2 separate regions of the Homo sapiens genome follow, and region 2 is reported to be linked to region 1. Evidence: microRNA targets listed by miRTarBase, many of them from high-throughput screens and not tested one by one. Region 1 holds a microRNA gene; the other region holds the end of a gene's coding sequence.

What was found. Region 1 holds the annotated microRNA hsa-miR-1272 (GAUGAUGAUGGCAGCAAAUUCUGAAA, at 2,645-2,670, opposite strand). A microRNA usually pairs through its seed, bases 2 to 8, with sites in the 3' UTR of a target mRNA and lowers its output. Matches are read on the target gene's strand: a 7mer-m8 pairs with bases 2 to 8, a 7mer-A1 pairs with bases 2 to 7 and ends in A, and an 8mer does both.
Region 2: the mRNA of ZNF853 is a reported target of hsa-miR-1272. Seed matches in the 3' UTR shown: 7mer-m8 at 2,551-2,557, 7mer-m8 at 2,548-2,554, 7mer-m8 at 2,545-2,551 and 7mer-m8 at 2,542-2,548.

The regions. Positions count from the first base shown.
Region 1 is chr15:64,759,827-64,764,406 of GRCh38, forward strand. MIR1272 (microRNA 1272) reads right to left here and starts at 2,689; the gene lies at 2,561-2,689. The region is part of intron 1 of RBPMS2 (RNA binding protein, mRNA processing factor 2); the gene reads right to left. RefSeq lists an enhancer at 3,917-4,580.
Region 2 is chr7:6,622,657-6,625,656 of GRCh38, reverse strand. It overlaps ZNF853 (zinc finger protein 853), which reads right to left. Exons shown (of 3, transcript NM_017560.3): 3 at 1,367-3,000. The coding sequence ends at 2,686. Among named protein-coding and RNA genes, the nearest start is that of ZNF853, 8.5 kb to the right of the region's middle. RefSeq lists an enhancer at 1,223-1,723.

The DNA of each region.
Region 1 (4,580 bases):
CATGCCCGGCTAATTTTTGTATTTTTAGTAGAGATGGGGTTCCGCCATGTTGGCCAGGATGGTCTTGAACTCCTGACCTCAAGTGATCTGCCCACCTTGGCCTCCCAAAGTTCTGGGATTACAGGCGTGAGCCACCGCGCCAGGCCTACTCGGCCTGTGTCTATCAGCTCAGGTAGACGTCTCTCTTGGCCCTGGACACTGCCATGGGCAGACCTGGCATTCAAGCTGCTGCCACAAAAGGCCAGTGCCCTGGACAGCAGATGCTTAGGGTCCCTCCTTCCAGGGCACACACAGGGCCCAGCTCACATGGAGGTCCTGCAGGAATAGGGAATGGGCTCGTGGGGGAGAAGGAGGGGCCAAAGCAGCTGAGCAAAGCCTCCATGAAGAACAGGACTGGGACATGGGGTCGGCCAGGAGCCACGACCATGGGGACCCCACACTTGGTCAGAAGTGGCTGCGGCCTGGCCGCTCACCAGAAGCGTGTCTCCCTCTGCAAGGGGAAGGACAAGCCCGATGCTGAGGGATCCAACTCTAAACTTCTCAGATACTGTGACCATGAGGACAAGTTCCGTAAGTGCTGGCTTTTATTAGTGATGGAAAAGGTAAACACTGCTTTCAAAAACAGTGGTAGGCTCAGGGATATTAAAGTCTCTTAAGCTTTAAGTTTGGAGGACAAATCCCGGCCTTAGAATAGCCACGAAAGGACCCCAGACTCCAGGAACCACCACCTAGAAAACAGATCCTTCTCCGGATCACCTGAGGTCAGGAGTTCTAGACCAGCCTGGCTAACATGGTGAAATCCCCTTTCCACTAAAAATACAAAAATCAGCCAGGCATGGTAGCGCACGCCTGTAATCCCAGCTACTCGGGAGGCTGAGGCTGGAGAAATCGCTTGAACCCAGGAGACAGAGGTTGCACTGAGCCGAGATCACGTCATTGCACTCCAGCTTGGGCAAAAAGAGTGAAACTCCATCTCGAAAAAAAAAAAAGAAAGCAAACAGACCCTTCTCCACCAAGGATACTGAGGCAAGAAACCACTGGAACCACTCCCCACTCTTCCCTGCCCACAGACAACCCACCAACCCACCAGGAACAGTCACCCCTAGAGGCCAACTCTGGCCTTCTGTAAATTCCTGTCTCACAGGATTGGGACTTGGAGAAAAGACACCCCAGGAAAATCTCACTGCAGGCAATAGAAATATCCTTAAAAAAAAAAAAAAAAAGACTTTTGCAGCAACCCTTTAGCATCTCTAAAAGTTAGAATTCAATCTGGAAAGGAAGAATTGTTTCAACTGTCCACTCACAATGTTCAAGTAACGAATGCACGTGCTTCAGCAGTCCCCTACCCACTGCTTCGAGCGAGCTCTCCCGGTGTCATCCCGATGGAAAACACTACTTTGGGAAGGGGGTGAGAAGAGGAGAGAAATCCAAAAAGGGAAAAACGAGCCTCTTATAAGCCCCTCCCACATCCTTCCCCAACTCCCAGCCCTCAGTAGCAACCCAAATACAGAACATCTGAGCTGGAAGAAACCTTATTTTTAGAGGAGGAAACCAGGGCCTAGGGGTCGAGCGAGTTGCTCGCAGTTACCGAGCATGTCAGAAACAGCCTGTTCCCAAGTGCCCAGCTCACGAGTCAATGCTCTTTTGCAGACCTTGATCTCACACCAACCCACTCAGACCCAGTGGGGCCAGCCCAAGGTACCCAGGAACAACTGGCCTTCGGCTTTTTTGAGACAGGGTCTTGCTCTGTTGCTCAGGCTGGAGTGCAGTGGCGCAAACATGGCTCACTGCAGCCTCCTGGACTCAAGCGATCCTCTTGCCTCCATCTCCTGAGTAACTGGGACCACAGGTGCACACCACAAAGCCCAGCTTTTTTTTTTTTTTTTTTTTTTTTGAGACGGAGTCTCACTCTGTCGCCCAGGCTGCAATGCAATGGCATGATCTTGGCTCACTGCAACCTCCACCTCCGCCTCCTGGGTTCAAGTGATTCTCCTGCCTCAGCCTCCCAAATAGCTGGGATTATAGGCACCCACCACCATGCCCGACAATTTTTGTATTTTTAGTAGAGATGGGGTTCCACCATGTTGGCCAGGCTGGTCTCAAAAACTCCTGACCTCAAGTGATCCATCCGCCTCAGCATCCCAAAGTGCTGGGATTACAAGCATGAGCCACTGTGCCCAACTCCCGGCTAATTTTTTAATTTTGTGTAGAGGTGGGGTCTCACCATGTTGCCCAAGCTCATCTCGAATTCCTGGACTCAAGCCATCCTCCTGCAATCCCAAAGTGACTCACGCCTGGCCTGGTCTTCAGCTCATGAACAAAGAGGACAGACACAGTATCTTGCAAAAGGTTGGGGTAGGTATGATGGTGATGGTGGCGATGGCAGGGGGGTGGGGGGTGGTCCCACTGGATGATGCCACGGTGAATCCTACATGGTTACAGGCCAACGACGAGACTGACTGACAGACTGTCAACTCCCCACAGCTGAGTGTGAGTGGCCTTGTGCCCCACTAGCTATGGGGAGGTTGGGGATGGGTGCTGGAGCAGGCCCAGCCATCCCTACCAGCCCAGACCACAGAGCACACGAGCTGCAGCCTACATTTCTAAGTTTACGGCTTTCCTGTTATAAAGACACTGAGCACGTTTTCAGAATTTGCTGCCATCATCATCGCACCCAGATCTGATCTGGCTTCCCCAAGGGAAAGAGACCCCACTGAGAACCAGGACACTGCACTCAGGGTCCAGCTCAGAAGATACCCACTGACGAGATTCCAAACAAAAGACAAAGAACCTCAAAACAACGTCAGGAAGCCCAGGGTGAAGCCCCAGCCCTGTCACCAGCCATAGCAGGTGGCTTTGTGGCCTTCGCTTGTCAGCCTCAGCTACAGTAGAGTAGACTCGCCTCAGGTCCCGTCACACACTGACACTCTATGACACCAGGCGTTTTAAAGGGCAGTAGAATGCGACTGAGTCTCAGATAAGACTCAGCCACCATCCTCCATCTGCTCAGAGCTTCAGTGACTCCTTCTGCACACAAGGTGGCAAAGAAGTGGTGTGAACAGAGAAGAGAAGGGGACAAGATGGAAGTCAGGGGCCAGCCAGCTCTGGGCCCTAGACCGACCTGGGCCTGGGAACTTGAGGGGGGTCTCTGCAGAGCCAACGTTAGGGCTGCCGAACAGAAACGTCAGGGCAGTCATACCCTTGGTGTGGTCTTGGTCGCCGTAGTGGGTAGGGGGTGGGGGTGGGAGTGTTTTGGGGGATTGGGTCCTGCCTGGGCCCCGCGCTTAGGCTTGGCACCAGCAGGTTGCTCTTACGCCTCCCATAGGAAAGAAGGCCCTCTGAGTATGGCCACTTGACGTGAGGTGGATGGAATGTGGCGACATGGCCTGCAGACCCAGGACTTATAAGGCTCTGAATAAGGACACAGGGGAAGACAGCAAGCAGCACACAGCCAGACAGTGGATGTGAACCTAGATCCACACACTCCACAACATGTTTCCCATGCTTCCTGCAAGGAGCTCTGGGGTGGCTCAGCTACCCAGGCAAGGACGATGCCCAGATCCCCTTGCAAGAAGCCCCCATCTAGAGGACACTTGGCCCCAGAGTTTACCAGTGTCACCACAGCCTCACCTAGTAAGGACAAGTCCCAGGTTCAGGTGGGATCTGGTGTTCTGCCTGCCCCTGCTATCCCTCTTGCCCCAAATCCCATGTTATCAGGGCCTGGCTATAAGGCCCCATCCTGGGCTGCACCTTGTAGTTTCATTCCTTTACACAAACCATCAGCATGCAAAGCTCATAGTCCTTTGAGCAACAGGTAGAACAGGTATGGGGTCCCCATTTTACAGATGCAGAAGTCAGTCCAGGGATCAAGTGCCTGGCTGGCCAGTGGCAGAGCTGAGGCTTAAGTCCAAGTTGCCTGAAAAGTTTGGGGCTCTTCCTCATAATGTGCAATGTGTCCTAGACTTCCAATGGTGTGTGTGTGTAGGGGTGGGGGGAATAGAGACTGGGGGGAACTAAGCCAGGGTGAAAAGTTATCTGAAAGGAGGGACAGGGCTGGGCAGGTATAAGAAGGCTTCAGGCCTCATTCTCCAAGCCACTTCCAGCCCCAGGAAGAGAAGCCTTAATGTCGTGGGAACACACCTGGTCAAAGCCTGTTGTGTGCACTTGACCTACACCTCATTTAGGGAACTAGACCAAACAGAGAATGAGCTGTGCTTGCAAACTCTGTGTCAGGGCAGGCTGGCTGAAGCGTGCCTTCCATCAGGATCCAGACAGAGCCAGGGGCCAGGACTTGGCTTTCAGGGGCAAAGTTCACTGGGCACCCCGGCATGGAAGCCTCCCAGGCCCACCCACCTCCTGCAGCCTTCTTGGTGCTGTGTGGCCAGCTAACACAGATCTACTGCCTGCCTGTGTGCCTGGCAAGGGTTGCAGTTGCCGCCACTGCCATACAATACCCTACAGAAGGGACTAGATTCAAGGCATTGGGCTAGAGGACCCCTACACCCCTCACTGCCAGCTCCTAAATCAATACCTCCAACCCTTAAACCACATGATGCTATGCTGGCATGAACACACAGCCC
Region 2 (3,000 bases), not on the chromosome of region 1:
TGAATGAATGAATGAATGAAGACTCTCAGGGCTGGGAGGAGACTCCAGGCCTCACGATGCTCCTCCAAGTGGCTGTGCAGCAGGGCGAGCTCAGCACCATCACTCCAGGCTGCAGCTGGCCTGAATTTTTGGGGGGTGGAGGGGGAAATGGTCTCGCTGTTTCCCAGACTGGAGTGCAGTGGTATTATTTTTTAGTAGAGATGGGGTTTTGTTATGTTGCCCAGGCTGGTCTCAAACTCCTGACCTCTAGTGATCCCCCCACCTCAGACTCCCAGAGTGCTGGGATTACAGGTGTGAGCCACTACCAAGTTGGGCTGAATTGATACAAAGGTTGTCCTTACTAGATCCCAAAGCTGGCCTTCTCAAGCATCCACCCTCTGGTACCTGACCCTCCCATGAGGTTCTCACCGAGTAAGTCCATTACCCAGCCAAGGGCCTCAGGCTGGAAGGCTGGTCTGGGGTGAGGAGGATTGGGTAATGGGCCTGAACAGCATGCTCCTTGCTCGAGAGCAACCAGAAACATTTTCCTTGAAATGAACCTCAACAGCCTGGGCGACACAGTGAGACCCCCTCTCTAAAAACTAATTAAAATTTAGCCAGACATGGCCAGGTGCAGGGGCTCATACCTGTAATCCCAGGACTTTGGGAGGCTGAGGCGGGCAGATCACAAGGTCAGGAGTTCAAGACCAGCCTGGCCAACATGGTGAAACCCCATCTCTACTAAAAATACAAAAAATTAGCCGGACGTAGTGGCGGGTGCCTGTAATCTCAGCTACTCAGGAGGCTGAGGCAGGAGAATCGCTTGAACCCAGGAGGCGGAGGTTGCAGTGAGCAGAGATCATGCTACTGCACTCCAGCCTGGGCAACAATGTGAGACTCCATCTCAAAAAAAAAAAAAAAAAAAAAAAATTAGCCAGACATTGTGGCATGCACCTGTAGTCCCACCTACTCAGGAGGCTGAGGTAGGAGAATTGCTTGAGCCCAGGAGTTTCAGGTTGCAGTGATCAAACCACTGCATTCTAGCCTGGGCAACAGAGCAAGAACCTCTTTCAAAAAAAGAAAGAAAAAAAGGAATGAATCTTTGGCCAGGCACAGTGGCTACACCTGTACTCCCTGCAGTTTGCGAGGCTGAGGTGGAAGGATTGCTTGAGCCTGGGAGTTTGAGACCAGCCCAGGCAACATTAAAAAAAAAAGAAAGAAAAGAAACAGAAAGAAGAAAGGAAAGGAAGGGAAGGGTAAAGAGGAAAGAAAGGGGAAAAGGGGGACGGGGAAAGGAAGGGAAGGGAAGGAAAAAAGAAAGAAAGAAAAGAAAGGAAGCCCTATGGAAGACACAAAATCCAGAGGTGAAAACACCAAGACAAGGACATTGTATTTCTGCATTTTAATTTATTTTTCGTTTCTGTTTCTCACTTACCAACACATGTGTAAAATGTAGCAGGTGTGTTAGTAAAGGAGAAGCAGCTGGGGGGAGAGGGGCAGGAATTAAGCAGCCACATGTGAAGAGTCAGGTCAAGCAGGAAGTGACTGGGGGCAGAGGTGGCGGGCAGCCTCCTCCCTGCCCCACCTTCCCACAAGGCACCAGCAACTGCTGCAGCTCACAACCCCTGCCCCAGACGACTTGGTGAACGTGGTAAAGAGCATTGCTCCCAAACGTCGTCTCAGATATTCTTTCCCCAGCCCCAGCAATGGCACAGTGTCTGCTCAGGCAGCCCTCCAAACCTCCACAGCCTGGTGCGGGAGAAATCTGCCCTGGTCTCCCCGGGCCGGCCCCTGGGTAGCATCTGAGAAGCATGAAGCTGGTGGAGTCCAGGGGGGCCACAGTGGGGCTACCCCGGAGCTCCTTCTGGGGGACCCTCCTTCCAGACCTTGGAGAGCTCTCCCAGAAGGCCCTCTGCTTCAGCCACAGGCTCTTATTCCAGAGGACATTAATGCGGGCTGGGGGGACTGGGGGACACAGCAGCAGAGGCCAAGAAGCTGCCTCCGATGCCCGCCGGAGCCCCTGGTTCCCTGGAGGGAAGGTTTTACCTTCCACCCGGAGCAGGACTTCCTGGCTTGGATTTGCACATCGACCCGGTGAGCGCTCTGACCCTGTGTTGATGAACACAGGCGTTTTCATCAGAATTATACCCACCCTGATGAATTTTCATCTTGGAAAGTATTTTCAAGGCAAATGCCTCTGAGGACGATTCGATGCCTTGGTCAGTTTCTACATAGTGCAAACAAGTTTGCTTCCTCCCCGAATTTCTCCTTGCGATCATTTTCACCAGGATCGAAGATTTTCCACGTGTGTCTCACCACGTCTTGATTCCCTGGTGGGTGTCCAGTCCTCGGCCAGTGTCATTAATCGTCTCGCCACTGGGGGTTTTTCCTCGTTCGTAGTAAGTCCAGTTTTCCCGGAGGGAAAACCTTTGGCAGACCCCTCAAAGGGCAGACAAACGTGTCCCGTGTGCTGTTTCAGCCCCGGTCCACTTCTCTTTTGGCGGATGGATTTTTCTGGCGGTGAAATCTGTGAACCTGGTATTTTCTCAGGGAATCCGGAAGATGATGATGATGATGATGGTGGAAGCCTTTTACTCCAGGGATATTCCAGGACGCCTCCAGCGCCCATGAACCCGGGTCAAGGAGCTTTTCAGGTGGAGGCGGGTGGGGGGTCCCCTCCCGGCCAGGCAGCCCCGATCACGGCCCTCACAGCGCCTTGTCTGCGGGCGCAGTGGCTGTAGCGGCCTGCTCCGCGCGGGCTGGGCCACCGAGGGCCGCCGGCCGCGAGGCGCGCAGCAGGCCGAGGCCCCTGGAGCGGCCCGCGCCGTGCAGCTGGCGCTCGTGGCGGCGGATCTGCACCTTGTGTCGGAAGCGCTCGCCACAGTCCTCGCACACGTAGGGCCGCTCGCCCGAGTGCGTGCGCCGGTGGCGCAGCAGGTTGGAGGAGACGCTGAAGCGCTTGCCACAGTCCCCGCAGGCGTAGGGTCGCTCCCCGGTGTGCGTGCGCTGGTGCTGCACGAG